Linked DNA regions of Homo sapiens: all the other regions are linked to region 2. Evidence: fine-mapped expression QTL. A gene starts in region 2. Each other region holds a variant in brackets. All regions are shown on one strand. Distances are from middle to middle.

Region 1 (8,000 bases), 64 kb before region 2:
ATCTGTGATTAGTGATCTTTGATGTTACTCCTGTGATTATTTTGGGATGTCACGAAGCACACGCACATAAGATGGCAAATTGGATAAATATGTGTGTCCTGACTGTTCCACTGACCAGCTGTTCCCCCATCTCTCTTCCTCTCTTCAGGCCTCCCTATCCCCTGAGGCACAATATTGAAATTAGGCCAATTAATAATTAGTAACCCTCCAATTAATTAATTAATAACCCTCCAATGGCCTCTAAGTGTTCAATGAAAGGAAATGTCACGTCTCTCACTTAAAATCAAAAGCTAAAAAGTGATTAACTTAGTAAGGAAGGCATCCTGAAAGCAAAGACAGGCCTAAAACTAGGCCTCTTGTGCCAAACAGCCAAGCTATGAATGCAAAGAAAAAGCTCTTGAAGGAAATTCAGAGTGCTAACTACAGTAAACACACAAATGATAAGAAAGTGAAACAGCCTTACTGCTAATATGAAGAAAGTGTTAGTGGTCTGGATAGAAGACCAAACCAGCCACAACATTACCTCAAGTCAAAGCCTAATCCAGGGTAAGACTCTCTTCAATTCTATTAAGGCTGAGAGTCACCATGAGGAAGCTGCGAAAGAAAAGTGCAAACTAGCAAAGGCTGGTTCATAGACCCTAGCAGAAGTTTATGGAAAGACGTTGTTTTTAACCTAAAATGCAAGGTGAAGCATTTAACCTAAAATGCAAGGTGAAGTAGTTGTAGAAGCTACAGCAACTTATCCAGAAGATAACTGATGAAGGTATCTACCCCAAACCACAGATTCTCAATGTAGATGAAACGGCCTTCTATTGAAAAAAATGCCACCTAGGGTTTTCATAGCTAGAGATAAGAAGTCAGTATCTGGCTTCAACGCTTCAAAGGACAGGCTAACTCTCTTATTAGGGGCAAATGCAGCTGGTGACTTTAAGTTGAAGCCAATACTCACTCATTTGTCCTAGAGCCCTTAAGAATTATGCTGAATCTCCCAGCCCTTTGGGAGGCTGAGGCAGGAGGATTGCTTGAGGCCAGAGGACAACTTGAGGCAAGGAGCTCAAGAACAGCCTGAGCATCATAGTGAGACCCCGTTTCTACAAAAAATTTAAAAATTAGTTGGGTGTGGTGGCATATGCCTGTAGTCGCAGCTACTTGAGAGGCTGAGGTGGGAGGACTGCTTGAGCCCAGGAGTTGGGGGCTGCAGTGAGCTATGATTATGCCACTGGACTCCAGCCTGGGCCAAGACCCTGTCTCAAAACAAACAAACAAAAAAATGTGCTGAATCTACTCTGCCTGGGCTCAAAGCCTGGATGACAGCACATCTGTTTATAGCATGGTTTACTGAATATTTTCAGCCCACCATTGAGAACTACTACTCAGAAAAAAAGATTCCTTCCAAAATATTACTGCTCATTGACAGTGCACCTGGTCACCTAACAAGATTACTGATGATGTACAAGGAGATTAATATTGTTTTCATGCCTGCTAATAACATTCCTTTTGCAGTTCTATGGATCAAGGAGTAATTTCAACTTTTAAGTTCTATTATTTAAGAAATACATTTTGCAAGGCTACATACAGCTGCCATTGATAGTAATTCCTCTGATGGACTGGGGCAATGTAAATTGAAAACCTTTTGGAAAGAATTCACCATTCTAGATGGCATAAAGAAGATTTGAGATTCATGGGAGGAGGTCAAAATATCAACATTAACAGGAGTTTGGAAGAAGTTAATTCCAACCCTCATGGATGACTTTGAGGAGTTCAATTCAAGACTTCAGTGGAGGAGGTAACTGCAGATGTGGTAGAAAGAGCAAGTGAACTAGAATTAAGACTGAAGGCTGAAGATGTGACTGAATTGCTGCAATCTCATGATAAACCGTGAATGGATGAACAGTGACTTGCTTGCTTGTTTTATTGATTGGCTGACTGAGATAGGGTCTCGCTCTGTCACCCAGGCTGGAGTGCAGTAGCACGATCACGGCTCACTGCAGCCTCAACCTTTTGTACTCAAGCAATCCTCCCACCTCAGCCTCCTGAGTATCTGGGACTACAGGTGCATGCCACCATGTCTGGCTAATTTTTGTATTCTTTTGTAGACGGGGTTTCACCATGTTGCCCAGGCTGTTCTCAAACTCCTGAGCTCAAGCGATCCACCCGCCTCAGCCTCCCAAAGTGTTGGGATTACTGGCATAAGCCACTGCCCCTGGCCTCAGAGTGGCTTCTCATGGATGAGCAAAGAAAGTGGTTTCTTGAGATGGAATCTACTCCTAGTAAAGATGTTGTAAACATTGTTGAAATGACAATGAACAATTTAGAATATTACATAAACTTACTTGATAAAGCAGTGGCAGGATCTGAGAGGACTGACTCCAATTTTCAAAGTTCTACTGTGGGTAAAATTCTATCAAAGAGCATCACATGCTCCAGAGAAACCTTTCATTTAAAAAAGAGTAAATTTATGTGGCAAACTTCATTGCTGTCTTATTTTAAGAAATTGCTGCAGGCACTCAAACCTTCAGCAGCCACCACCCTGATCAATCAGCAGCCACAGGCAAGAGCCTCTACTAGCAAAAGGAAACAACTCACTGAACGCTCAGATGATCATTAGTATTCTTTAGCAATAAGTATTTTTTAATTAAAGTATACACACTGTTTTTTAAAAAAACATAATGCAACCAGGCACAGTGCCTCATGCCTTTAATAATAGTGCTTTGGGAGGCTGAGGCAGGAAGACTGCTTGAGTGTAGGAGTTTAAGATGAGCCTGGGCAATATGGCAAGACCCCATCTCTATAAAAAATAAAAAATAAGCTAGGTGTGGTAGCAAAGATATTTGTAATAAAAGTTAACATTCTCAACCTAAAAACACGTAAATACGTAACAAAAAAGTATCCAATTTTTTTTTAATGGAAAGAAAACTGAGAAACAGGTGTAGGAGGACAGAATGATAAGCAAAAGCAAGCTCCAGCTTTTCCTCGTACGTCACCATATTAGTTGCTCATTTTGCGACTTCTTTGCAGAAACTGACAAGCTGATCCTAAAATTCATGTGGAAACTAAAGGGATCCAGAATAGCCAAAACAAATTTGAAAAAGAGAGCAAAGCTGAGGCCAGGTGCAGTGGCTCACACCTGCAATCCCAGCACTTTGGGAGGCCAAGGCGGGAGGATCATTTGAGCCCATGAGTTCAAGACTAGCCTAGGAAACAAAGTGAGACACAGTCTCCACAAAATAATTTAAAAATTAGTTGGGTGTGATGGTGTACACTTGTAGTGTCAATTACTTGGGAGGCTTAAGTAGGAGGATTGCTTGAGCCCAGCAGTTCGAGGCTGCAGTAAGACACGATCACGCTACTGCACTCTAGCCTGGATGACAGAGCAAAGACCCAGTCTCAAAATAAAATAAAATAAAATTTAAAAAAGAACAAAATTGGAGGACTCATAATTCAAAACTTACTCCAAAGCAACATTAATCAAAACAGTGTAGTACTTGGCATAAGGATAGACAATATGAAAATGGAAAACATTTATGGTCAAAAATTTAATTCCAACAAGGGTATCAAGAATATTCACTGGGGGAATAACAGTCCTATCAACAAATGGTGCTGGGACAACTGGATATCCATATGCAAAAGAATGAAGTTTGACCCCTTCCTTAAAGCATACAAAAAATTAACTTAAAATGTATCATAAGTCTCAATACAAGAGATAAAATTATAACATTCTTACAAGAAAAATAGGAGTAAATCTTGATGAGTTTGGGTTAGGCAATGGTTTCTTAGATTTTACACCAAAAGCCTAGGTAACAAAAAAAAGTAAATTGGACTTCAAAATTAAAAATTTGGAGGCTTCGACAAATACTATCAAGTAAGAAAATCAGATTAGAAAAAAATTTGCAAATCAAAAGTTTGATGGATTTATATACAGCTCAATAATTAAAAACAAAATGTCTGAATAGACATTTTTCCAAAGAAGACATATGTAGTCAAAAACATTGCACATGAAAAGATGCTCAACATCATTAATCATTAGAGAAAGGCAAATCAAAACCACAAGGAGATGCTACTCGACACCTACTAGGATGGCTTATAGCAGAAAAACAAAAAGGAACAAAGGTTTCAAGAATGTGGAGAAAATGGAACCATCATGAATTGCTGGTGGGAATGTAAAATGAACGGTGAAGCCACCATATGTTCTCACTTACAAGTGGGAACTAAGCTATGAGTAAACAAAGGCATACAGAGTAATACAATTGACTTTAGACACTTGGAAGGAGAAGAGTGGGAAGGGTGGCTAGGGATTTAAAAAACTACATATTAGGTACAATGTACGCTACTCAGGTGATGAGTAC[G/A]CTAAAATCTCAGAATTTACCACTATATAATTCATCCATGTAACAACAACAAAAAACTGTACCCCAAAAGCTACTTAAATAATTTTTTAAAAAATTAAATAACTAAATAAAATGGTAAAGTCACTTTGGAAAAACACTTTGGCAGTTTCTCAAAAAGTTAAACATAAACTTAACCTTAGGACCTACCAGTTGCACAGTTAGGAATCTACCTGAGAGAAATAAAACATATACCTACACAGAAACTTCTATACAAATGTTCATAACAGTTATTAGTAGCCCAGAAGTAGAAACAACCCAAAGTCCATCAATGAATGAATGGATAAACAAAATGTGGTATATCCATATAATCGAATATTATTTGGCAATAAAAAACAAAGTACTGACTTATATGACAACATGGGTGAACTTTAAAAACACGAAACTAAATCAAAGAAGCCAGTCACAAAATACCACACATTGTACTGTAAATTTGATTTATATGAATCGTCCAGAAGGGGCAAATCCATAGAGATAGAAAATAGATTAGTGGTTCCCTAGGGACAGGGAGTTTGGAAGGAAATTGGTAGGGACTGCTAATGTGTATGAAGTTTTTGCAGAAGTGGTAAAAAATACTGTAAGTTGAATGTGGTAATAGTTGCCCAAGTCTATGAATTGATTAAAACCAGTGAACTCTATACTTTAAATGATTAACAGAATGGTATGTAAATGACATCTCGCTAAAGCTATTTTAAAAAACTAAACCTCTTTAAGAAATAAACCTCCATTTATGTCTAGGGAAACAATAAATCCCAGCAGAGTGAAATCATACAATACCCTATTTGCTTATCCTGTCCATGTACCCTAAAGGTAATGCAAACCCAAAGAAGAGTTTACTATTATTATTATTTTATTTCAATAGCTTTTGGGGAATAGGTGGTTTTTTTGTTACATGGATAAGTTCTTCAGTGGTGATTTCTGAGATCTTGGTGCACCTGTCACCCAAGCAGTGCACATTTTACTGAATGTGTAGTCTTATCCCTCACCTGCATCCCACCCTTCCTCAAGTCCCCAAAGTCCATTATCTCATTCTTATGCTTTTGCATCCTCAAAACCTAGCTCCCACTTGTGAGAGCCTATAGTATTTGGTTTTCCATTCTTGAGTTCTCTTAGAATAATGGTCTCCAACTCCATTCAAGTTGCTGCAAATGCCACTATTTCACTCCTTTTTATGGCTGAGTAATAGTCCACCATGTATATATATATATATCACATTTTCTTTTCTTGTTTTGAGACGGAGTCTTGCTCTGTTGCCCAGGCCTGGAGCGCAATGGCACGATCTCAGCTCACTGCAAACTCCGCCTCCTGGGTTCAAGCGATTCTCCTGCCTCAGCCTCCTGAGTAGCTAGGACTACAGGCACCCACCACCAAGCCTGGCTAAATGTTTTGTATTTTTAGTAGAGATGGGGTTTCACCATGTTAGCTAGGATGGTCTCGATCTCCTGACCTTGTGATCCGCCTGCCTCGGCCTCCCGAAGTGCTGGGATTACAGGCAATCACATTTTCTTTATCCATTCATTGGTTGACAGGCATTTAGACAGGTTCCATATTTTTGCAACTGCGAATTGTACTGCTATAAACATGCATATGCAAGTGTCTTTTTCATATAACAACTTCTTTTCCTTTGGGTACCCAGTAGTGGGATTGCTAGATCGAATGGTAGTTCTTTTAGTTCACACTGTTTTCCATAGTGGTTGTATTAGTTTACATTCCCACCAGCAGTGTAAAAGTGTTCTCTTTTCAACACATCCATGTTAAAGTCCATTTGTTCTAGGGTATAGTTTAAGTCCATTGTTTCTTTGTTGACTTTCTGTCTTGATAACCCATCGAGTGCTGTCAGTGGAGTACTGAAGTGCCCCACTATTATTGTGTGTTATCTCATTTCTTAGGTCTAGTAGTAATTACTTTATGAATTTAGGAGCTCCAGTGTTAGGTGCATATATATTTAGGATTGTGATGATCTTTTTGCAATGAATTTCCTAGGATTTCTTTGCGTTTCTTGTAATTGATGTCTAGATCTCTAGCAAGGCCAGAGAAGTTTTCCGTAATTATTCCCTCAGATAAGTTTTCCAAACTTTTAGATTTCTTTAGGAAGACCAATTATTCTTAGGTTTGGCCATTTAACATAAACCCCAATTTCTGGGAGGCTTTGTTCATTTTTCTTTTTTTTTAGATGTAGTCTTGCTTTGGTGCCCAGGCTGGAGTGCAGTGGCGCGATCTCGGCTCACTGCAAGCTCCACCTCCCGGGTTCACGCCATTCTCCTGCCTCAGCCTCCCCAGCAGCTGGGACTACAGGCGCCCGCCACCACGCCCGGCTAATTTTTTGTATTTTTAGTAGACATGGGGTTTCACCATGTTAGCCAGGATGGTCTCGATCTCCTGACCTCGTGATCCACCCGCCTCAGCCTCCCAAAGTGCTGGGATTACAGGTGTGAGCCACCACACCTGGCCCTGTTTTTAAAATTTAAGTTGCTTTCCACCTTTCTCTGGTATCTCCTTGAGTAGCTTAATAATCAGCCTTCTGAATTCTTTATATGGCAATTCAGAGATTTCATCTCGGTTTGGATCCATTGCTAGGGAGCTACTGTGATCTTTTCGGGGTGTTATAGAGCCCTGTTTTTGTCATATTACCAGAATTAGTTTTCTAATTCCTTCTCGTTTGGGTAGACTGCTTCTTCAAATTGTTCTTGAATATATTTTTGATTTGACTGTTTTTTATTTACTTTTTCTCTCTCTCTCTTAAGGATTAGACTTTAATGTTCATTTTAGTCTAAACTGATTCTTGGTACTTGTAGGGATAAAGACTCTGTATGAGTTCCTTAGTTATAGAGAGTCTTTGTGTGCTGGCTTTCCCTAATGCTGGCTATAGTAGTTATATTATTAGTGTGTGGGTGAGTTCACTGTCTCCTATAGAGTTGGAATGGCAGGGATCTCTTGAAGCTTATCTTGTTCTCTCGTGGTGTACACCTTATTTATTTAATTTTTTCCTAAGTTGATGATTCCGGCTTCAGGCCCATAGAGGGGGTATCCCTGCATAGGCAGCAGATGTCGCTAAGGCAGGTGAGTAGATGTAATACCCAATGGTGGGCCAAAGTCCCAGCCTTGATGAGGGTAGCTGGGGTGGCTCTCAATTAGATGTGCTGAGGATTTATCAGAGTGAAGAGTGGGAACTACCACAGCTTCCCTACCAAGTCAGCGGGAAAACTATTTACCTCACAGCCTCACTCCTATACTAGTGTTTCAGCTATTCTGATCAGACAGGCACCTCTTTTCATCTATAGGAATGTTGTTATTCCAAACAGGGAGTGATTGTGACTCTGCCTCTTGTGCAGGCCTGAATCTGGGGGGTGCTCCTCCTGTCAGGCTGCACTTACCCTGGATTATTCCAGAATGGCTTTCTATAGGTGCCTCCATGCTGCATTCCTGTAGGGGATGCCCCAGCTATGTCTACAGTGGAGTCCTGGGGAGAACAAGGACCTCTTCTCCAAGGTCCTTCATGATCACAGTGGCTGCCCGCCTGTTGCAGTGTATATGCAGACTTTCCCAGCTGTACCTAGCACTGCAATTGTGTCTCTGCTGTGAGAAACTACCCACCAGTGAAAAGATCTGGAACTCAAG
Region 2 (8,267 bases):
CTAATATATGCTTGTTACTTAGCATATATAACAAGATCTATTTTTCTGTTCAAGCACCTTTGTTCTATCAAGTTCCATGAGTTTAATTTTTAAACTAACAAAGCCAACAACTCCTTTTTGGAAATAGGTAAAATAATTCTAAATGGAACATTTCTGGTTACTTACTGATAGTAACACAAATTTAAAAACAAAACAAATACCAACATAACGTCCTTAACAAAGCTTATCCTGAGAATTATTTCAATTGACAGACCAAAGCATGATCTAAATGATGTAAACTGTACATGACTTATGACAGTGGAGAAACATAATAAAACTGTTGAACTTTGAATTAGTGACCATCTTATCCATTTTACAAATAGGGAATATATCATCAGTCAAGTATCCTTTTACTTAACAATACAGTCAGGATTGTATAACTATCTGAGAATTAAATTCAACAAATATTAGGTTGCTAGCACAGTATGTTTAAGCCATTCTACTATGGTGACACAAACACTGTCCCTACTCAAAAGACCCTTATGAAATTGCAAAAAAAGTTTATTTTACACTGAATGCCATAATAAAATTAAGGACTACTACCTCTAGAATCTAAACTTTTCCATTAATTAGGCAATTTGGGTGACAAATTAACTTTTCAGCCACTATTTGCAATCACTCTGAATGGGATCACTATTACATACTGTAATAAGCAGTGGTTACACTCTTAAGTGACAATTATTTAGATTGTTTTTATGTTGAGATTTTTAAAATCTATTCTCCTTTGCATATAAGTCAATCTCTAGGGACCTTTAGGGAAACATTTACTTTTTCAGGCATCTAGAATATTATTAGGAATAGTAAAATCACAATGTATTAATATAAATCAATAGGCATTCCTCTATTAACAGAAACCCCATGAGTACTCTCAAATTCTCATTACAAGACACTGGCACACAGGAGGAAATGTCTATGCTGAGCAACTTGAGGACGTTGTTTCTTTACCTCGGTATACTAAAACAACTGTCAATTTTCACTATTCAATATTTCCTGAGTGTTACTGATTCCCAGTCCGTGCACAAGGCTATGAGAGAATACAGATTCTCTCTCTAACATCTAGGAATTCACAATTCAGTGGGGAGAAAGGCACACAAACAAAGTAGGTAAAAATAAAAGTAGTGGAAAATGTCGCTTTGAGAAATAGCATATACTCAAATTAATACTTATCCATTTTCTAAAAGCCTTGAGTTGTTTCAGCAAACACAATACATGGTGAAAAAATACAGTACTCAAAGGAAGAACTCTTGGTTTCACAATTCTTAACATATTGTAACGTGACTTCAGGCACGTCATTCTTAACCAGGGTTGGCCTTAGTCACCTCGTCTAAAAATGTCAGTATTAGCAACCTAAACCCGAATCGTTTTACCGGCATAAACTAAATTGTCTCTAGTGGCTCTTCCGGGTCAAAGATCCACAATACTCACATACTCATCCATCAGATTACCCCAGTAATCATGGCCCAGGGAACCACTACGGGTAAACTAGATGAATTAGAGTTCCTAAACTGAGATAGGCTTTAAACTTGTGAACTCAGAAAATGTATTACAGTGGCCATGATACAGCCTTATAAAATGAACAAGAATAGCTGAACATTTTGTGTATCATTCTGGTACAATATGCGTGTGAATTTCCCACCAGGAATCCGAGTTTCTGCACTACTGGAACCACGCCTCCCAGAGAAATCAAGGAGACACCAGAAAAACCTCCTCAAGGGACAGGGAAAAATCACGGACAAGCTTTCTTCCCTTCTCACCTCCCCCTAAAAAAGCCCAGTGTTTTTCTTCCCCTCCAGCTATGCAGCTGCACCCAGCAGAGAAGTACTAGATTAGCATCATCTGCATTTCATTCCTTTTCTTTTGCAATAGCTACTCGCCTATAATAAACAGACCTTGTGCTCAAGGGAGAATTTACTTCCCCGTCCAGTAAAAATGAAGTTCCTTATTTTCACTAACAACGCCGTCTCCAATCAACACCCAACCTCCCTGGGGGGTGGGTGAGACCAGACACGCCTCTCCCTGCCACCCGTGCTGCAAGCCTGACGACCCACACCCTAGGAATTGTCCCACTTTCCGAGCCCCTTCTGCTCGAGTGGCGAGGCTTCGGGGGACAGCGGAAGAGGCCAGGGATTTGGCGTGCACACCAGGGGGGCGTCCAGGCAGGCCCGAGAGCGCTAGGCTGCCTCCGCTGACAGGGGGCTCGCACAGGCGGAAGGGGAGCGGCGAGACCTATGCCACCCCCACTTACCCACTTTGTCCTTCCCGTACATGTGCCCGGCCACCTGATGCGAGAGGGGCACGCAGCCGTTGAGGAAGCGGAGTCTGCCGCCCGCCGGCTGCGGGGTGCCCTCAGGGGTGGACTCGATCGCCGGTGAGGTCCGCATTTCTGGGGGGCCCGGCGCCTCGACCCGGAGGGGGGATGGTGGCTCTGTTGCCATAACGGAGAGCAGAAGCGGTAACGGCAGCGAGAGTAGGAAAAAAAATAGGGCGAGGGAGGGGGCGCCGGAGAACCCGAGGGTCGCTCAGGCTCGGGCGCGAGGAGGCCCGGGGGTTCCCGCGGCTGGTGCCCTCTGAAGCGCGGGGAGGGGGCCCATGACGCCGCCGGGGCGCGGGCGCTCCTCTGCCCAACTCTCGGCGGAACGCGGCTCCCGGCTCCTGTTCCTCTGCCGCCGCAGCCGCCGGCCCCGGCGCTGCCCGGTAGACAGAACCGAGCCGAAGAACAGCAGCAGCGGCGCCCCGCGCTCCCTGGGGCCCTGACGGCGACGGCGGNCCCACCTCCTGCGCCCCCGCCCCCTCCCGCCGTCCTCCAGTCCCCTCAGCTGCCGCGCGCGCGTCACCGCCGCCCGCACCGCCGCTGCCGCCGCTACTGAGCATGCCCAGAGGCCGTCCAACGGGATTCCGGCCCCCCAAGTCAGCGGGGCGGGCGCGCCGTGCTGCCAGGACCTGGCGACGGCGACAGGGATAGGGCGAGCGCACCCCTGTTTCTTCTCACCCCCACCCCGCGGGCATTTCGAAGTCACGCGTGCTGCTGTGGCCTCATTCATTCAACACGCTTCTCAGCGCGTCAGCTCAGAGAAGCCAGGGACTTCTAAGTGTGCGGAGCAGTCCGGCAAGAATTGGAAGGCACTAGCATTGCCAAGGGTGGCTCTAAAGGCCACCCCTAACTGCACTCAACTCCCTCCAACTCCCACCCCGCACGAAAACAACAGAAGTAAAAGCAGGCAGCTTATTAGAGATGCGCCTTCAAAATACCCTTCGAGTTAATCTCAGCCCCCCTCCCCGGATTGCTGTCTCTAAACCGCTCTTACCAAAAAGTAAAACACATAAAAATAAAATAAAATTGGAACCGACACGAATTTCAGACTGTAGAAGACAGAGAAAACTTCTAATTTTTTTAAGTGAACATGTTTTTTAAAGAAAGGAGCAAGTTTTTTCTCTCCCACTCGACCTTTAAGATAGTGCAGGTTCCAAGGTCCTGAGTAGATAATTATATCAAAAGCAGAAAGGGATGGACACCGGTAGCTACGCGAGGTTCTGGAATGGGACTCAGTCATTGATTCCTGTATGTCCGCCGCTGGCATGTTATATAAAAGCTGGACCTGGCCTTGAAGGTAAATCGTCACAAGCCCCGAGCAAGAAAAACTGGGGTCAAATCTTAGGTATCTGATTAAAGTAAGTGTCCTATTAACACCTGTTTCTGCCCCCAGAAGCCCACACACCTGGAAGAGACGTAAAATCTGGCCTGGATTCCCTAATCCCAGGGCCCTGCCCCTCGGCTTCAGGGCCCCGCCCCTCGGCTTCAGGGCCCCGCCCCTCGGCGTTGCGCAAACTCTGTTGCTACCTAAGTCTTTTCCTCCTCCCACCTCCCGTAGCTGTCAAAATCCGGAGTCCAGACTTCCTTATGGCCAGGACAGCTCCACGCATGCTCAGCACCTACCAGGGTCGAGCTCACACACGTGCCTACGACCCGCCGCGGCGCCTGCGCGGTAGCATCGCGGAGTCGGTGCTTTAGTACGCCGCTGGCACCTTTACTCTCGCCGGCCGCGCGAACCCGTTTGAGCTCGGTATCCTAGTGCACACGCCTTGCAAGCGACGGCGCCATGAGTCTGACTTCCAGTTCCAGCGTACGAGGTGAAGTGGGGCCTGGGAGCGGGTGAGGCTGGTGAGGCTCAGCGGTTGCCGCGCCCGCAGTTCGACTGGGTTGTTTTACCACTGCCCTACGCGCCCGCCGGTCCTATAACCTTGAGATGCAGAAGGGCAAGCGCTCGGCCCGGCTGCGGGCTCCGGGCCGGACAGCGAAAGGGGGCGAGGTCAGGGATGGATTGATGGTTTGGGGCCATGCCGGACCAGAGTCCACGTTTACCCCAGCTAGCCAAACCCTAACACCTAATGACCGCGCCGCTAGCTTTTCTTGTTCACCCCTAAGACGCTTTCATGTCCTTAAGTCACATAGCCTGGAAAAGAAGGAAAGGTGGGAGAAAACAACAGCAAACCTGTTTGCCCTTCTCATGTTTCAGTCAGCGTCGGGCCACAACGTCGATTTCCTGCAATCCTGAAGCATTGCGTGACTAATCACATCTTAGTTTTGCAGATTTTTTTTTAAGGGATGAAACGCAATCCGAGGTTTTCAGTTTTCCCGGTTTTTTATTATTCCTCTGGCATCTGACACTCGGTGGCAGTAGTCCAGGATAAAGGATTGAAAACTGCGTTCGTTGAACCTTCAGCTTTCTGAGTCTTCTTTCCCCTGTGCTAGTACCTAGCGTTTGGAAACAGTATTTCGCAGAAAGTCCCGTTATAATAAAATTAAGAGACTTTATAAGCAGTCATTTAATGTGGAGTTTCACTTTATAACCATTCTTGGTGATGTTATAATTGTTAATATAATACTGTGTACCAGACACACAATATATGTGATCTTTGCCCCTCTATAAAACGCCACTTCGCAAGGTTTTGAGTAAAGGCAAAGAGACTGTCTAGAGGTTAATTAAAAATACGTTCAGTAAATATTGAACATCTGTAGTGCCAGGTAATAAAAAGTCCCTACTAACTTGAGCCCTAATTTTTTAATAGGTAGTTTCCAAAAATTGGAGAGTTCCACTTCTGTTGACAAAATTTACCTGGCTAAGGGTGATATTCCATGACATTTCGAAGTTACTAATGATATAGAGATTATTATTTGCAAAAATTATATTAAAGGATACTCATCTTGAGACTTTTTTTAATAGAGGCAGCTTGGTGCATTTAAAATAGGGTGTGATTTTTGTTTTTGTTTTTTAAAAAACTATATTCTCTTGGGATTAAGACTTGTGAAATGAGATGTTCATGTGACTTGTGCCGCTGATATTTTTAATTTTACAGGAAGACTGCACATGTTTGAGGTGGACCAAAAGATTCCACAGTGTGTGTTTAAAATACGGGATCATTTTGTGTACATGAACACTAAACTCTATTTAGGTTGCATATTATTGAAATGTGAAACGGGTGAACCCCTTAGGACTTACCGCTATCTGCAGGCTGGTCTGCAGGATTTCTTTTTTAGACAAGACAAGGTTTTTTGTTTTGTTTTGTTTTTCAAGTCTAACCATAGGGGAATTCAAAGGCAACTTTCCCAATCATTTTCCATTGCCTAAGGAATAGGAAATCACTGAAGCAGGTTATTGGCTTCAACTGGAAGTATTCAACTTTGTTAGGAGGAGTGATTATTTTTTGAGACAGAGTCTCACTCAGTGGCCCAAGCTGGAGTGCAGTGTTGTGATCATAGCTCACTGCAACCTTGAACTTCTGGGCCCAAGCCATCCTTTCTCCTTGGTCCCCTGGCTTCCCAAAGTGCTGAGATTACATATGTGAGACACCACACGTTGCCATGACTATTTTTTTTTTTTTTGAGGCGGAGTCTCGCTCTGTCGCCCAGGCTGGAGTGCAGTGGCGGGATCTCGGCTCACTGCAAGCTCCGCCTCCCGGGTTCATGCCATTCTCCTGCCTCAGCCTCCCAAGTAGCTGGGACTACAGGCGCCCGCCACTACGCCCGGCTAATTTTTTGTATTTTTAGTAGAGACGGGGTTTCACCGTTTTAGCCGGGATGGCTCTCGATCTCCTGACCTCGTGATTCGCCCGCCTCGGCCTCCCAAAGTGCTGGGATTACAGGCGTGAGCCACCGCGCCCGGCCGACTATTTTTTATTTCACCAAAAAGCATGCAAGTTGTCATGAGGACTGTAGGGAGAGGCCCAAAGCCTTTGTAAATCTCTTCTACCAACATTTTCCTCCTCAATATAGTAGTAGGTAGGCAAGGTAGGGAAAGAGAATGTCGAGGGGATTTAACTTTTAATGTTTAGATCACACACAAGTTTGGTTCTCTTCTCAAACTTTAAACCAAGTTTATTCCTACAGATTGAAAATCAATTTAGATCTTTTAATTGGGGGAAAGATATCATGTCTCTTCTCAATTAAATGAATTTGTAATTATAAAGGGTTTAGAATGATATGTGACAGTGGTAAGCACTATATAAATATATGTTAAATATAAAGTGTGTACGTGTATGCAGAACTCTTGTTCATCATCAGAAGAAAAATAAAAGGTAGTTTATAAAAAAAAATTTAACGGGAATCAGGCCAGGACTGGAATCAGGCAGAGGCAGTGAGAATGAATGATTGGAACTGAAATACTCTTAAGATCCTGATCATTGAGATAGCTCTTGATACCAGTATGGTCGATAAGACCATTAGTTTATTATATTTTCTAGTACTAAGTGGCCTTCACTGCCTACTCGTCCAGTCTCTTATGATTCCTCCTCATATCCAAATAGATGACCTTTCTGAACATCATCCTGCTCCTTGATAACTCTAGCACTCATTGATCACTCTCACCCTTAACCCTTTCTCTTCTATTTGCAAGGAAGATGTTAACTCTTAGGCTGTTCTCTCTCCATGTCCTCCAGATGCCGTTTTCTTTTGCTTAAATCTTTGCCTCAGTGATATCTGTTGTTCGTAAATATTTAGTGCCTCATAAAGATTTTCTTCAGCCTTAAGTCACTCATAATTCACCCTCATCTTTAAAAAAAAAAAAAAGCCAACTATACCAGGTAATTTTGAAAGGCATCCCTTAACCTGCCTTCCCCTGAAATCACTTTTTTTTTTTTACTTTACCCTCAAGTTGCAACATAGGGATTTGTCTGTTCATCTTGTACTTCATTATCTATCCCAAACCCTGATCACTACAACGCTTGTAACCAAAATTACATTTCATAAATTCTTATTCTCTTTCATATTCTTGTGTATTTTATTGAAACTAATTTTCTAATTCATTTAACCACAACATAGGAAAATATTGTTTTGGTTCACTAAATTCACCAAGTCATTTAAAGTCATTATTTAAGGGTTTTTGTCTGAAAAGAAAGGTATGGATCATACTGAAAATAAAAGGGATAGCTCCTATAAGTTATAAACAATAAATGAAAAATAAGAGGGCTGGGTGCGGTGGCTCACGCCTGTAATCTCAGCACTTTGGGAGGCCAAGGCGGGCAGATCATGAGGTCAGGAGTTCGAGACCAGCTTGGACAACATGGTGAAACCCCCGTCTCTACTAAAAATACAAAAAATTAGCCAGGCATGGTGGCACGCATCTGTAGTCCCAGCTACTTGGGAGGCTGAGGCACGAGAATTGCTTGAACCCAGGAGGCAGAGGTTGCGGTGAGCTGAGATTGCACCACTGCACTCCAGCCTGGGCAACAGTGCGAGACTCCATCGCAAAAAAAAGAAAAATAAGGGGGGAGTTTGGAGCTATAGACTGGCCAAATTGATGGTGGTTAGAGCTAATTGAGGGTAAATGGGATTCATTATAGTATTCCCTGTGTGTGTCTGAAATGGTCCATAATAAAGTTTTTTTAAAACATAGCTTCTTATATATACCTGAAGTTTTTTGTTTGTTTGTTTGTTTGTTTTTAATATATGTATCAGGGAGTAAATTCCACACCCTGATACAGCAGGTTAAGAAGAAGGTAAAGATAAGTCATTTAGTATAAGAGCAATGCAGTGTAAGGATAGAAAAATTGCACATAGGAATTGCAAATTTAAATTAGTCATCCATTATTTCTTTTGACTCAACCAACATTATTGAATATCACTTATATGCCAGGCCTTGAGAAAAAAAAAAATTACCAGGCACGGCCTGCCAGCCTATGGGAGATCTAAGGGAGGGAAGGGTTTAAGCACAGCTCCCCTCCCCCTCTCCTCA
Region 3 (8,274 bases), 120 kb after region 2:
CCATTGCCCTGGCTTAAGATATTATTTTAGTAAGCCACTCAGATAAATAAGAAAGCATTTATGGGGACTGGAAATAATAGAATGTGAGCAGGTGTTTAAGAAAACTACCGCTTCATGACTGATTTACCTATCCTGTATCTACGTAGAGTCATATATAACTTCAAAGCTGCAAACTGTGGATTCAGAGGTGGCAATTTTTGTTATTAACATGCTAACAAGGAAGATATCCTTCCTATTATTTATACAGTTTTCATAGCTGTACAGTAGAAATCATAGCACCTTAGAGGATTTATGAAAGGATTAGTGATAATGTATGTAAAATACTTGGCATGTAGTTTAGCAATAAATTATAATTATTACCATTTGTATTGATCAGATACTTTACCGTGGTATGAGGGCAGACACATTATATTGTCCTATTAACAGCATTATTCCTTCAATACAATCATTCTGGATTTCTTCCGATCTTTAAGTTAGCTTTCAGTAATATGAAGTCAGCTTTCAGTAACATCCAGTAATATGAATTGGGGTATTATACATTTGCATAAAATTATAGCTGTTCTTTTTGCTTGTCCTACCTCCTGCTGACTCATAGAATCAGCTTTAAAATAGACAAGCTACATTTATTTTTTGTAATGCTGCTACAGCAATGGCTTAAAATAATTCTGATATGCCCTTAATAATTAAGGCTGCATGCAGACTTTGTTCTAATTGAGAAATATTTCACAGATAATAATAATTTCGGGTAGCTGGGAACTATTAACATGCAACAGGTCTTTCTTCTAATTTCTCTATTTCTCTTTCCCTTCCTTCTTTTTGTATATTGATTTTAAAGGCAAACTCCAGTGGCATGAAAACAGACTCTATGTCAATAAAAATGGTTTGAAAGAAAAAATTATACAAGTAGTTTTCCATACATAATTTATTAAAATCTTGACTCACAGAAAAAATAAGCTAGGAGATATTCAAGGTGTAAAATTTTTTCTCATTGCTGCAATGCACTGTTATACTTTTATTCCTTTTGTGTCTTTATGCTTTGTTCCCCCAATCACAGTGTCAGCTCTTTGGGGCAGGATCAATATCTTATGCTTTTTGTGCCCCTTTCAAGTGCTTATCACAGTGCTTTGTAATTGCTTATGAGGAAATTGTCTTTAAATGTGGTGTCCATAGTATGATCTTATTTCCAGAGATATTTTACTTACAAGTTCAGAATCACATCTATTTATCCTGCTAAAACCTATTAGGTAATTGCTCCTGTTGTAGCTAAATTATTTATCTATTATAATTACAAAAGCCAAGACTGCTTTCTCTTAGCAACATTTTTTCTTCATTTGAGTGATATCTGTGCATCTAACTCCATTATTCAGCAGGGAATTATCCAGGTTTCTGGCTGCTCCTGCTGTTTATTGGCACTACCTTCTGCTTTACCAATGTGCAAGTATCAATGAACCATAATCATTACTTTCATGTGTATATATATTTCAGAATTTTACATGGTTTCCATCTCCACACACTGGCAAATGTGTCCTTCTATTGGCAAATGACACTTCTAACAGGTAGTTGTTCTCTATGGGGCTAAATTTATATATAAATAATTTGTGCAGATGCTAATCTTTTCACACTATTCATCTCTCTCTGTGTATCTATATGTCTGTCTGTCATCTATTATCTATCTATCTATATATCTGTCAGTTCACCTATCCATCCGTTTGTCCCTTCATCCATCTATCATGCTCAGTGTACTGTGCTAGGTACAATAGGGGATAAAAGAAGGCATAAGATTTAGTCTTTTCCTAATATAACTTACCATCTATTGTGGAAAAAAATATGTATACATAGAGAAAAAGATCAGAAACCAGAGTGGTACATGATGTCACAAGTAAGTGATGTGAGCTCACACACTATAGATGATCCACTAAAGATATTTTGGGCTGGAATGATGTGGCATGTTCACTGAGTCTGAGTGATCTGATACAAACGAAAAGCACAGGACAATGAATTGCAATTTTTACCTACACAACTTACTGTTGGAAGCTTATGAGTTGGGCTTTCTGAACTTCATTTTTCTCATCTGGAAATTGGGAATAATGATCATGACAATACCTTCTCTACCTTTTCCTTTGATATTTGAATCATACAGTCAAATAAAGTTATTTAAAAATTTCTGAAAATATTAAAGTGCAATCCAACTTCAGGGTGTGTTGTTTTAATTTTTCATCAACTACCACAATGTGTCTGCTCAAATATTACTAATTTAAGAAATATTAAAAGTTCAACAGGAAGAAAGGAGCAATGCTGGTTATGTAATATGTATGTTTGCATGTTAACAGGAAAAGAAAAATTTGTCAGTAGCATGAAATCTGCCAATGGTGGGAGTATTTACACCATAGAACTCAGCAAACACCACAAATTGGGGCTTTCTTTTTTGGAGAGCTATTTACCAGCATATTACTGGCCTGAACAAAAGCAACAGCAATGGGACTAGAGAGAAGGAAATACATACTAGAGGGATGAATGAGGCAGAATCAGCAATACTCATCATCAGTTGGTTAATGGCAGGTGGAGTGTCAATGGGGAGATTCTAAAATGATTTATCAAGTTATTGGCTCAGATGATTAAAGAGGAAAACATGTGCATCTTACCAAGAGAAGGACTTCAAGATGGGTGAAAGATAGTGGATTTTGTTCAGGGAATGTTGAAATTGAAGTACTTGTGGGACATGATGGTGAAAATGTACAGAAGACAGTGGTTATGTGGATACGGAACTCAAAGGAGAGGACTGGGTTCAATATGGCAGTCATGAGGCTATAACTAATAGCTGAAGTCATGGGACTAGAGAACTTTACAACAAAGGGACCCTGGGAAAGGCTGCAGTAAGTCTTCATGTTTTATAAAGTAATTATATACCATGTCTTTTTGTTAAAAGACAGTTTTAGTGGATAAAGTTATGTTTCTTTGTAAATTCTGCTTTTAGAAGTAAAATTATCACTGCAATGTAAATGAGTTTTAAGGAAGATTGGTATCTGATGAAAAATGTTATGGATTTGATTTTTAAGGTCTTTACAGCAAGATTTATACAAATGAAAGTCGAAAACAACAAAAAGTTTAATATCCAAAAGAAGTTTATGTCAAACATTTGAAAGAACAAAAACATTCTAGAACAAAAAGGGAAACAAATTATTTTAGAAATCAACTTAAATGTAACTTCTGTCTGAGCCCCATGTTGTAATTATTTGCTACTTTGCCTCACCTTTGGGGCTGGGGGCGGGGGGTGGGCTGGGGCACAACACTGTGTCTTTTATCTATGTTTAGGGCGTTGTACATAGTATATACTCAGGAAAAAAACCTGTTTATTCCATGCCAGAATGGGAGGTTTGAACAGATGACTTGGAAGGTCCCTTTCAACCCTGGGAGTCTATAAAAGGGAAGTGGTTATTACCGCTTAAAAGAAGAAGTAGGCTTAGTCCTACTTCCAGAGAGCCAATGTTTTCATAGTTACAGAAAGGTAAATAGACTGTCAGCTCAATATGACACTGGTAAGAATTTTCTAACAATTACGGCTATCCAACAGAAGAAAGGCTGTCTCAGAAGGTGGTTAGCTCTGAAACAACTGGTATTTAAGGGCTGGAAGGACCCTTAGGTATCTTTAGGTCTTCCTAATCTTTTTCATGCCATTGCCTATACAGAAAATGGTATTTCTATAACACAAATAAAAAAATTATACAGCAATTTTTGACACATCAATGTCTCAAGGCATACTTGTCACACGTTCTCAGGGCTTTGGCTGGGAAAACTGATTTAGTCTAACATCCTCGTTTGCAGAGGGGGAAACTGAATCTTAACGAGGGAATGCAATATTCCCAAGTCAAGACGTTAATGTTAATACTGGAACTAGAAGAATTGAGACTAGCGACTGTGGACAACTAGCCAGTTTCCTCTGCTCAAATTAAGCAAGCTGGAGGCCAGACTGAAAGACTGCAGTAGATGGTAGAATAAACAGTCTAAAGCTATATTGCTTTAAATGTGGTCTCAAGACCACCGACATTAGAACTTGTTAAATTCTGGGGAACTCGCTAAAATGAAGATTAATGGGCCCCACATAGACACACGGAATTAAGCTCTGCGGTAAGGCCTTGGAATCTGCATTTTTAGGTTTGCGAATCCCCGCCTCTCCCGTTACTATTTCTGAACTCCGAGCTCCAGCCCTGGCTTGAACTGAGACGCTCCGCTGGGCGCGCAGCAGCCGCCGATCGGACCTCGGGGTCCTGGATGCAGGACTGTCTGTTACGTACAGCCCTTGTGACCGTCACGGGCGGACACCGGCCAACGCCGGGTTGGGGTGAGGCCGCCGCCGCGGTCCCTCCATCACCCTCCTGGCCCGGCAGAGGAACCCACTGCTCCGGGCGGCCGGGGACAGAGGTGGCTCAACAGCGCCGCCTCGAAGCCAGAGCCCTCCGCAGGCTAGAGGATTGCGGTTTCCCTTCATCTCCGCGGCTCTTATTCCTCCCCCGCAAGGCCGCCCACCGGGGTACGCTCTCCCGCGCCTGCGCCAATTCCGCCCCGCCCCGCCCCCATCTACCGACCGGATGTTAGCAGATTTCCCATAGTGCCTCGCTAGTGGCGGGCATGATAACACACGCCGGAGGGTCGCACGCGGGTTCCAGTTGTGATTGCTGGAGTTGTGTATTGCCAGGAGGCTCTCCGAGATTGGGGTCGGGTCACTGCCTCATCCACCGGAGCGATGGCGTTTCTCCGAAGCATGTGGGGCGTGCTGAGTGCCCTGGGAAGGTCTGGAGCAGAGCTGTGCACCGGCTGTGGAAGTCGACTGCGCTCCCCCTTCAGGTAGGCCCGCTTGCCTGTGCCCTAGGGGCAGCAGGGCCCAGGACGTCCCGGGGTTGGAATGTAGACCCTATCCTTCACTTTCTGCCCCTCCTAGGAGTTCAGAGTCACCCTGGTTCTTTGATTCAGACCGCGACCTTGCCAAGGGGACGGTGGCCTTGAGACCAGGCCTTTATTTACTCTCTTAATAC[G/C]CCGTACCTTCTTGCTACCCTCCACTCGCTTCTCCCATCCCTCCTCACTGTCCAGCTTTGGATCCTTTCCGCCTCCTCTGCGAATTCGCGCCGAGTCTCCGGCCATCATCTAGGCATTGAGGAGGCGGGGCCCAGGAGCTGGAGTATAGACGCTTTCCTTCACTCCCTGCCCTTCCTAGGAGGTAAGGGCTTTGAGACTTCAGTCCTGCAGACGCTCCCCTCCGTTTAGGACAGGGTTTTAATAAGTCTCTAGCATTCTTGTTGAAGGCGTTGGATACATAGTATCTTGATGACATTTCTTATTTGGGATCTGTGTTCATATACATGTGAATATTGACAGTTAAACATCTGACACTGGTTATTTTCTTTTTGTTTATATGTAGTTTTGTGTATTTACCGAGGTGGTTTTCATCTGTCTTGGCAAGTTGTCCAAAGAAACCTGTAAGTTCTTACCTTCGATTTTCTAAAGAACAACTACCCATATTTAAAGCTCAGAACCCAGGTAAGGAGTTTTGGGGCATATACCCTTTTCTCATGTAATAAAAATGCCATTAAGCAGTTAAATACCAATGTTGAATTGCAGTGCTAAAGCATTCAGTGACTGCAGGAACAATCATTTGATGTCTGTAAAATAGGAAGTTCTATTTTATACCAAATGGAAATGCTTTAAATATAAATGAGAACTAGTAAATGGTATTTTAAAAATAACGTATAGTGTAGAAAGCACCCTAGGAAGAGGATAAAAAAGCTGAATTTGGGGCCTTGTTGCCTTTGGTCTAGAGGACCACTGATGAATTATTTTCTCTTGCCTAGCTCCTCCTTTTTCTGGCTCAGGGAATTGTTAATAAAGTTGCAACTTCTGTGGAAGCATCCATAAACTGTAAGTTCTGTAGAACTGTAAAGTTCTATGCAATTTACTGCTAATTTCAAGAGCTTTCAAGATAAGAAAGGATAAACCTTTTCATCATAGGAGTTCAGAGCCACTCTGGTTCTTTGATTCAGACCTCGACCTTGCCAAGGGGATGGTGGGTTGTAAAGGATAAATCCTTTCTTGTCTTGGGTTCCTAAAAAAAAAACATTTCCAGGTAGGATGTTTGTTGACTCTCTAGAAAGCCTCTCGGCGAGAATAAAAAATGCTCACATCAGGCTGGGTGAGGTGGTTCACACCTGTAATCCCAGCACTTCGGGAGGTCGAGATGGGTGGATTGCTTGAGCCCAGGAGTTCGAGAACAGCCTGGGAAACATGGAAATCCTGTCTCTACCAAAAATACAAAAATGAGGTGGGCATGGGGGCGCAGTGCCTGTAGTCCCAGCTACTTGGGAGGCTGTGGTGAGAGGATCACTGGATCCCAGGAAGTTGAGGCTGCAGTGAGCCATGACTGCTCCACTGCACTCCAGCCTGGGTGACAGAGCGAGACCCTGTCTCAAAAAACAATAATAATTTTAAAAAAAAGCTCACATTATAGGTAAGGAGTTAGTTTCAGAGACATGCTTAAGTACCCACATCTTTTAAATGTAAGAGTTAGTACTAACAGGTATTTTTAAAAATCAATTAATTGCACGCCATCATTCCGGTTAAGATGAAGAAGGAAGTGGAGAATAACAGATTGAATTTCGAATAGCTTGTTTCCAAATGATATTTCTGTTATTGAAATACGAGGCTGTGTTATATGGATCGAGAATGTATTTTGTTGTTAGCTTTTATAAATTTAGGAATTCCTCAAAGACTTGAAAAAGTGTTTTGCTTGAAATATGGAAGGGAAGTAAAAAACTTGAAGCAATTGATCATCCAGCTTCTTAAACTAGTAATCAGCCTGGTGTGGTGGCTCGCGCCTGTAATCCCAGCACTTTGGGAGACTGAGGCAGATGGATTGCTTGAACTCAGGAGTTTGAGGCCAGCCTGGGCAGCATAGCGAAACCCCGTCTCTACAAAAAATACTAACATTAGCTGGACATGATGGCGCCTACCTGTAGTCCCAGCTACTCGGGAGGCTGAGGCAGGAGAATCACTTGAGCACAGGAGGTGGAGGTTGCATTAGGCCAAGATTGTACCACCGCACTGCAGCCTGGGTGATGGCCTGGGTGACGGACCCTGTCTCAAAAAAAAAAAAAAATCCTAGTAATCAAACTGTTGACTGTTTCTGGTGGTATATGGTATACTCCTTAGTTGTTAGATAATAGACTTTTGATAATGTTGGATAAATTACTTACGTTTAAATTAGTTGGATAAAGGAAAGTTAAATCATTATATTAAGTTATGTGTGGTATGGATTGTGCTTTCCTGGATATCTTTAGAAATTAATCCTGAGAGGTAAAATTGTGGCATCTTTTTTCTTTTTATTTCATTCCATAGATGCAAAAACTACAGAACTAATTAGAAGAATTGCCCAGCGTTGGAGGGAACTTCCTGATTCAAAGAAAAAAGTAAGCACATAAGTTTTCAACATTGCTGACCAGTTATTCTGCAGTTAGGAGCAATTGTCATGTCCTTTAAAGGACCAGATGGATCAGACTTTTTAAAAAATAATCTGTTATCTACAAAGAAACTTTATGTCTTCTCATCTGCATAAATAATGAGAATATGGATGTATGGGGTGGAGGTGAAGAAGTGGCAGTAGTTTGAAAATGGAAGCTGATTACTAAACTCTCACCTTGATTAGTATATATAAGGAAAATGTATGTTTTAATCCATATACATCTCATCCCAGAGCACATTTTCCACCTGGTGATAAAATCTGTCTGTCTGAAGTCATGCAGTTGCCTTTCCCTGGCATGTGCTATGTTGAATTTGCCAGCAATGGTTTGTTGACTTACTTGGGTTTTTTATTTATAGATATATCAAGATGCTTATAGGGCGGAGTGGCAGGTATATAAAGAAGAGATAAGCAGATTTAAAGAACAGCTAACTCCAAGTCAGATTATGTCTTTGGAAAAAGAAATCATGGACAAACATTTAAAAAGGAAAGCTATGACAAAAAAAAAAGTGAGTATCATTGAAATACTTTTTTCTTATGGTAAAGAATTGAGATTTATATAACTATGAATATAGGTAGTTTTCTCTTAATAGGCAAATAAAATATGGTAGAATGTCATCAAGTATTCTTCAGTTAGGCAGAAGTGGGATAGTTCTCTTATGAAAAGTGAGATAGCCACTAGGACCACTTGCCATTGAGTCTGTTTGGAAATCCTTGTTGCTACTTGCAGATGTATCCACATTTAAGGTGTACAGTTCGTAGAACAGTAA

Which allele goes with the higher level. Positions count from the first base shown, and alleles are read on the strand shown. Sizes are in standard deviations (SD) of each study's normalised expression. Not every link is listed here.
With allele G in place of A in region 1, the expression in fibroblasts of the gene that starts at base 4,025 in region 2 is higher (small effect, 0.23 SD a copy in GTEx).

Evidence for each region. PIP is the estimated chance that this variant, and not a neighbour inherited with it, causes the effect.
Region 1: its variant is fine-mapped to the expression of CISD1 in fibroblasts (GTEx, PIP 0.98).
Region 3: its variant is fine-mapped to the expression of CISD1 in whole blood (INTERVAL, PIP above 0.99).

Annotation. Positions count from the first base shown.
Region 1 is chr10:58,201,407-58,209,406 of GRCh38, forward strand. All of the region lies in intron 4 of IPMK (inositol polyphosphate multikinase), which reads right to left. Among named protein-coding and RNA genes, the nearest start is that of IPMK, 62 kb to the right of the region's middle. The variant G/A (reference allele first, on the strand shown) is at 4,347.
Region 2 is chr10:58,265,138-58,273,404 of GRCh38, forward strand. It overlaps CISD1 (CDGSH iron sulfur domain 1), which reads left to right and starts at 4,025. Exons shown (of 3, transcript NM_018464.5): 1 at 4,025-4,167. The coding sequence starts at 4,137. IPMK (inositol polyphosphate multikinase) reads right to left here and starts at 2,757. Exons shown (of 6, transcript NM_152230.5): 1 at 2,285-2,757. The coding sequence starts at 2,474. RefSeq lists enhancers at 1,928-2,037, 1,992-2,286, 3,731-4,287, 4,133-4,182 and silencers at 2,538-3,047, 3,753-3,812, 4,403-4,452.
Region 3 is chr10:58,380,807-58,389,080 of GRCh38, forward strand. TFAM (transcription factor A, mitochondrial) reads left to right here and starts at 4,604. Exons shown (of 7, transcript NM_003201.3): 1 at 4,604-4,842; 2 at 5,414-5,532; 3 at 7,384-7,454; 4 at 7,864-8,013. The coding sequence starts at 4,742. RefSeq lists enhancers at 4,055-4,154, 4,348-5,004 and a silencer at 4,285-4,664. The variant G/C (reference allele first, on the strand shown) is at 5,031.